Linked DNA regions of Homo sapiens. The protein of the gene in region 1 purifies or fractionates together with the protein of each later gene. This does not show direct contact. Each region holds a gene or a part of one and is shown on either strand. Other genes may lie near its edges. The genes, in order: BRAP and MAP2K1.

Region 1 (4,024 bases):
TTATTGTCTGTTTAAAACTGTAAGCAGTTACTCTCTTAACTCCCTTATTACCTAAACTTGTCTGGCTCCCAGGAACAGCCTTCTAGAGACAGGGAGTATTGGGAGGAAAACGTTACTTAACTATTGACTGAACGTAAATTTAGATAAAATTAAAATGCAGCTTTTTTCCTTATAGGCATTTGTTTTGTTTCAAGTCATCATAAAGTAGGTATTGCATTGCTATCAGTGGATACAGATGCTTAGCTCTTAAAAGAATTTTTTTTGGCCAGACGCAGTGGCTCACGCCTGTAATCCCAGCACTTTGGGAGGTTGAGGGTGGATCACGAGGTCAGGAGATCGAGACCATCTTGGTTAACATGGTGAAAACCCATCTCTACTAAAAATACAAAAAATTAGCTAGGCGTTGTGGTGGGCACCTGTAGTCCCAGCTACTCGGGAGGCTGAGGCAGGAGAATGGCGTGAACCCGGGAGGCGGAGCTTGCAGTGAGCCGAGATTGTGCCACTGCACTCCAGCCTGGGCGACAGAGCGAGACTCTGTCTCAAAAAAAACAAATTAAAAAAAAAAAAAAAGAATTCTTTTTAATGTAAACTGTTGAATATTTGAAATAGCCCACTTCACCTTAATGGGTCTTGTGTATCTTCATTTGTCTTCAAAGAAAAACCATTTGCTACCAAAGTAAATCAGTATTTCGAATGTGCTTCTCTTGTTTTTTGTTTATTAGCTAGTTGCTGTAAGCATTTCCACCAGAACTTGAGCCAAATCATAAGGAAGCTGTTTCTTTTAAAATACAAACCACCACCAAAAAATTAAATGTACATATTAAGCATTTGACTATTTTTATTTTTTTAAAAAGTATAAACACCAAAAAAAAAAAAATTAACATTGTATGAAGATGGAAAACAAGAAGATACACTTTCTGTAACTTTGTCTGAGGATTTAAATTACTAACTTGTGAATCCAATTTAAATTGAACTTAACTACTGGCTTCCCCCACACCCCGCCCCGACCCAGACGGAGTCTTGCTCTGTCGCCCAGGCTGGAGTGCATTGGAGCAGTCTCGGCTCACTGCAGCCTATGCCTCCCAGGTTCAAGTGATTCTCCTGCCTCAGCCTCCTGAGTAGCTGGGATTACAGGTATGCACCACCATGCCCAGCTAATTTTTGTGTTCTTAGTAGAGATGGGGTTTCACCACGTTGGCCAGGCTGGTCTCAAACTCTTGACCTCGTGATCCGCCTGCCTTGGCCTCCCAAAGTGCTGGGATTACGGGTGTGAGCCACCGTGCCAGCCCCAGCTTTCTTACTAGTAAAATTACATGGTTGATTTTAAATGTATACATGTTGACCAATGGCCTCTCAAAAAGCACATTTTAGATACTGGAGTAGAAGGAAAGAAAATGCATCTTCAAACATTTTTTTGGAATCTCACCACATATACTTTGTGAGATTTGTATATTGTAGGGTGTTAGTTTTTGTATTTTTGTATTGTGTATGAGCTTTTTTTTTTTTTTTTTTTTTTTGAGACGGAGTTTCACTCTGTCTCCCAGGCTGGAGTGCAGTGGTGTGATCTCAGCTCACTGCATCCTCTACCTCCTGGGTTCAAGAAATTCTCTGCCTCATCCTCCCAAGTAACTGGGATTACAGGCACCCACGACCACACCCGGCTAATTTTTTGTGTTTTTAGTGGAGACAGGGTTTCACCCTCTTGGCCAGGCTGATCTTGAACTCCTGACCTTGTGATCCACCCGCCTCGGCCTCCCAAAGTGCTGGACTTAACAGGCGTGAGCCACCCCGCCCGGCATCTTTTTTAATGTGACAGTTAAACACATCTTTAAAAGCATAGTCACAGACAAAAGAAGCATACAGTATAAACATTTCCTTGAAAACTCCTACAATATTATATTTGGAGGCAGCTTCAGACTGTTTTATTGGTGGTAACTGCTCGCTGAGCTCTTTTAGTTGGTAATAACTCCAGAGAAGCATCCTGTGTATATTCCTAACACTTGTTCACTAGCATTTAAGTTTAGAATGAGCCCCAAGTAAAACAATGGAAATGTATATAGAACTCTTAGTTCTTACATGATTTAATTATATCAAAATACATGAATTTAACTTACTTTAATGTAGGCAAACTATCAATTTTTGTCCATTTTCCTGTTTGTTAACATACCTCTCCTAGATATTCTTTTCTTGACCCAAATGAAATATTAACCTAAGGTCAAGCTGGGAGAGAGAAACAACTGAGATGAATGTCTTTACTAAAATACCGATAAATTTGTCAAACTCAAAAAAAAATTGACGTGATAAAATTGGGCATCCTTTGTGCTGGCTGCTGCACGAGGCCTCAGTTTTAGAGATTCCTTTCTTAAATGAACGTGGCTTCTTGAGAGATTTCCTGTAAGTATCTACTCTTCAGGGACTGTAGGTTAATGTGCTTTTTCTCTGTCCATAAGTGTGTGCTCCCTGACCTTTGCCTAAGTAATTCTTTCTCGTCTTCTGGCTGGAAGCGTCAAGTCAAGCACTGTCTTAGGAATGCCTTTCCTGACCATCTAGACTGTCATGCCCCCTAATTCACACCCTGTTGTGGCTTCCTGTACTGTTTGCTTTTTAATTTGATTTTTGTCTCTCCCTCCACTAGATTCTAAACTCTGTGGGGGCAGGAGCTGACTGTTTTTTGGACTTAACGTATCTGTTTTTGCTCACCACTGTTCCACACCTAGAACAGTGTCTGTCTGCTGCACATAGCAGGGGCTCAATCTCTATCTGTACAATGAGGGAATAAAGAAAAATCAGTGTTGTTGGTGCTGTCATCACTGAGTAGAAAGTGTTAAGTTATAACTTACTCTATGGAAAAATCCTTCAGGTCCAGCTATTCTTTTGTTCCTTTGTGTTCTATTATAGTCGTAGACACTTAGAGCTTGAGCTAGGAGTCTGGTCACATTTGAGATTTATATGTTAAGGTTTTGACAGCAGTCTCCCTTCCTGGAATGTCAGTTCTGTAAGGGCAGAGATCTTTGTTTTGTTCACCGCTGTACTCCCAGTACCTGGCACAGTGCTGGAACACAGGAGGTACTCCATCCCTGTTTCTTGAATGAATGAATAAATGAATGAAAATATTACCAATTTAAATTACTTGCTTAGAGTAATGATATTGAGGATATCCTGCCAGGAGTCAAAAAAGCAACTAGAAAACTATTATTAAAAGAAGAAAGGCCTGGCACAGTGGCTCATGCCTGTAGTCCCAGCTACTGGGGAGCCTGAGGTGGGCAGATCTCTTGAGCCTGGGAGGTCAAGGCTGTAATGAGCCATGATTGCGCCACTGGGCTCCAGCGTGGGTGACAGAGAGCGAGACCCTGTCTCAGAAAAAAGAAGGAAAAATAAAGTATTGCTGGTAGATGAAGAGTGAGGCTTATGTGAGGTGTTTCCTGTAGGGCGCCAGCCTCCCAGTGATGGACCTGACTGAACTCCCCAAGTGCACGGTGTGTCTGGAGCGCATGGACGAGTCTGTGAATGGCATCCTCACAACGTTATGTAACCACAGCTTCCACAGCCAGTGTCTACAGCGCTGGGACGATACCACGTGAGTGCAGGGGCCGAACCCCTCTGTGTACAAGCCCATTGCAACCCTTCCAGAATTAAAAAGAGCCACCAGCAGAAATGAACCATTCCAAGTATTTGACTTTATTCAAGAGGTCCTTTTTCTCCTTCCCTTTCCTAAGTTCAGGGAATCGGCATTCTGAGACCAAGTCCTTTTTTAGTATGCTGATTCTGAACCCTTGTGGAATTCCCCAAAGCAGCATGAGTTGTTCTTTCCTTCCAAGAGCCAGAGAGTGAAAAAAAAAAGCAAAGCTTAGTTTGAGGCTCTCGTGCTGCAGTGAAATCTAGGTCTGGAATCTCATGTATCAGCTGCACTTGGTGTCTGCCATTCACTCTGGGCTTCTTATCAACTGGGCTACAGCAGCCTAATATTTTAGCTTTGCTGGGCTGTTGATGGCTTGGTGGCCAGTAGAAATAGCAGTTACTAAGT
Region 2 (3,500 bases), on another chromosome or scaffold:
TTTTTTTCATCTGCAAAAATGGGGCTAATGATAGAACCTACTTAGCATAGTTGTGAAGATTAAATGAGGTAGTACATAGTAAACTTCCAAAGCTGTTGGCTGCTGGTGCCTTTGTTACTGCCTAAGTGTTGGACCAAAGGAAACTGGAAGGTGATTTTCATTCATGGTGGTAGATTATGTGTTAAGGTGCCTTTGCTTCTGGACAATCAACTCTCCCTAGTTTGGTTTTTTGTACCATCTGCATCTACCTCTATGACTCATTGCTGTGTTACAATAGGAGGCATCTTTGTGTAGGCTGCCCAAGACAAACAGGGACTGTTTCCCTGTGTTTCATAGCACTAATGAGAGGGAAAGCTGTACACATCTTCATCTTTCACTTCTGAGAGTGTTCCTCAAGCAAAATGTTCCCTATCTTGGGCTACCAGCAGAAAGAATTCTGTTGCTTTCATGATTTCTGTGATTAGACCAGGGCACAATTTTGAACGTTATCAGACAATGTGAACTAAAGAGGAAGAAAATCCATTTTGACAGTAAAGAACTCTTGGTACCAAATTGGCAAGGTTGCTTTTCCCTTGGCACCTGTGCTTACCTCTAACATAGCCCTTACCCAGTTCAGAGATGGAGTTGGGTAATACGGGACCTGAAGTTGATGCAAGTTGTAGGGGTCCTCAAAGAAAAATCATGCAAAAATAGCTTTCTTTTGTGTATTTTGCAGAAACATGTGAGCATATTACTAGGGTCTTAAGTGTTAGAATGAGATAATGAGATAATATTGTTCCTCTGTTTAAAATGTTCTTCTGGTTCTATTGCAGTTACACAAAATCCAAACTCCTTATATTGGACTATGAGACTGAGTGATCTGCCTGTTGTCCCCACCACCCCCTCCCACCAATCTCTTTAACCACATTTCCTGCCACTCCTTTCTTCCACCACACTAGTCCTCTTTCACTTCCTCTATGGGATGGTCTATACGCACTGCAGGCCTCTGTACATGCTGTTCCCTTTGCCTGGAATGAATCACTCCTCCTTCCCTAGGTAGGCAGGAAGCAGTCTTCACCTATTTGCCTAAATGTCACTTCCTCTGAGATGTTTATAAGCATCTCAGAGGAATGTGGTCCCTCTTTGTCATGTCACCTGAGCTGCTGCTTTTTTTTTTTTTTTTGGTATGGGGGTCTTGGTATGTTGCCCAGGCTGGTTCTTGAACTCCTGGACTCCAGTGATTCTACCACCTCAGCCTCTTGAGTAGCTGGGACTATAGGTGGGTACTACTGTGCCTGGCGCTCACCTGAGCTTTTAATAAGACTTAATCATTGTAATTTTTCATTGGGGTGTTCTTAATATTTATCTCTCCTGTACACTATAAACTTTAAGCACAGCACTGCCTTTTTGTTTTTTGAGACGGAGTCTCGCTCTATCGCCCAGGCTGGAATGCAGTGGCACTACCTCGGCTCACTGCAAGCTCCGCCTCCCAGGTTCATGCCATTCTCCTGCCTCAGCCTCCCAAGTAGCTGGGACTACAGGCGCCCACCACTGCGTCCAGCTAATTTTTTGTATTTTTAGTAGAGATGGGGTTTCACCATGTTAGCCAGGATGGTCTCGATCTCCTGATCTCGTGATCCCAAAGTGCTGGGATTACAGGCGTGAGCCACTGTGCCCAGCCTGCACTGCCTTTTTTTGACTCACCACTCTGTAAGTACACCCAAAATAGTTCTGGCACATAATAGGTCCATAGATGTTTGTTGAGTCAGTGAGTGAATGAAATTTCTAATATTTGCACAACGGGTTTAATAAACCTTTTTATGTCTTTTCCTTTTCTTTTCCCCTTTATGCTCATTCCTTTTTTCCCCATTTTCTTTTGTTTTAGTCACCCACTCAACCATTCTAAGATATTTATATGGTTTTATAATTCCACCTGTTAGTCTGGTTATGTGTATACCCTTGGGAAGTAGAAGGATGGTTTTGTATGTATCTGCTTAGGATTCTAAAATGTTATTGTGCTACAAATCTGCATTTCATAGACAGGATAGAATAGGTTATGTTGAGGTAACAACCACAAAATCTCAGTAATTTAACACACTTTCAGGTCAGTGGGAGGCTCTGTAGATTGGAGTCCTTTAGGGATCCAGGCTGATCGAGGCATCGTCTCTCAAGTATACCTACATGAGGAGGGAATCTTGTGAAGAGCTACATTCAGGCTCTTAAAGTTTTGCCTAGAGGTGAGCCTTGTCATTTTTGCTGCCATTTCTTTGGCCAGAGCAAATCATGTGGCCATGTTGACCTTCAAGGAGGGCAGTGACCTTTTTGGAAGGGGGAGAACCACGAATATTTGTGTGTTTTTTTTGGGTTTTTTTTTTTTTTTTTTTTTTTTAAGAAAGGGTTTCGCTCCCACTGCCCAGGCTGGAGTATAATGGTGCGTGCCACCACGCCCTGCTAAGTTTTGATTGTTTTGTAGAGATGGGGTTTCACCATGTTGCTCAGGCTGGTCTTGAACTCTTGGGCTCAAGCGATCTGCCCACCTCATCTTCCCAAAGTGCTGAAATTATAGGTATGAGCCACTGTGCTGGTGCACCAGGAGTATTTGAACAGAAGCAATGACCATCCCTAAATTTTATATCAGTTTCTTCTTTGTTTTCTTTTCTTTTCTTTTTTTTTTTTTTTTGAGATGGAGTTTTGCTCTTGTTGCCCAGGCTGGAGTGCAATGGCATGATCTCGGCTCACCGCAACCTCCGCCCCCCAGGTTCAAGCTATTCTCCTGCCTCAGCCTCCTGAGTAGCTGGGATTACAGGCATGTGCCACCGTGCCTGGCTAATTTTGTATTTTTAGTAGAGACAGGGTTTCACCATGTTGGTCAGGCTGGTCTCGAACTCCTGACCTCAGATGATCCGCCTGCCTCAGCCTCCCAAAGTGTTGGGCTTACAGGCGTGAGCCACCATGCCTGGCCTTAGTTTCTTTTTTTAACCAATTTTGTTTTGAGCTCTATTCATGATGCTATACAATATGTGTCTAGTTCATTATTTCTCTTGGTTGTAGAGCAGTCATGTTTGCCTGCCACATTTTACTTATTTATTTCTCTAGAATTAGACATCTTTGTTGTTTCCCAACCCCTTGCTGCCTCAAACAGTCATGACCATGCCCATCCTTGCACATCCTTGTCTCCTTTGGATGTTGTGAGAGAGTTTCCTGTGGAATGTACTCAGAAGTGGAATTGCTGGGTCTTAGGGTACATTGTCTCTCCTTCCAGGATAAGGCATGTTATCTCTTTCTCTCTCTCTTTTTTTTTTTTTGAGACCGAGTCTCACTCTGTTGCCCAGGCTGGAGTGCAGTGTTGCAATCCTGGCTCACTGCAACCCCTCCCCACAAGGTTCAAGCAATTCTCCTGCCTTAGCCTCCTGAGTAGCTGGGATTACAGGTGCCTGACACCATGCCCAGCTAATTTTTATATTTTTAGTAGAGACAGGGTTTCATTATATTGCTCAGGCTGGTCTCCAAGTCCTGACCTT

What was found.
Region 2: the proteins of BRAP (region 1) and MAP2K1 purify together in Homo sapiens (affinity purification with western blotting, with the first as the bait; one study listed by BioGRID). This does not show direct contact.

Annotation. Positions count from the first base shown.
Region 1 is NC_000012.12:111,665,192-111,669,215, reverse strand, and holds part of BRAP (BRCA1-associated protein), read left to right. Parts: exon of another isoform or gene 1-258; intron 259-576; exon of another isoform or gene 577-981; intron 982-1,288; exon of another isoform or gene 1,289-1,496; intron 1,497-1,800; exon of another isoform or gene 1,801-2,285; intron 2,286-3,428; coding exon 3,429-3,577; intron 3,578-4,024. UniProt on the Homo sapiens protein: Negatively regulates MAP kinase activation by limiting the formation of Raf/MEK complexes probably by inactivation of the KSR1 scaffold protein.
Region 2 is NC_000015.10:66,389,912-66,393,411, forward strand, and holds part of MAP2K1 (dual specificity mitogen-activated protein kinase kinase 1), read left to right. Parts: intron 1-3,500. UniProt on the Homo sapiens protein: Dual specificity protein kinase which acts as an essential component of the MAP kinase signal transduction pathway.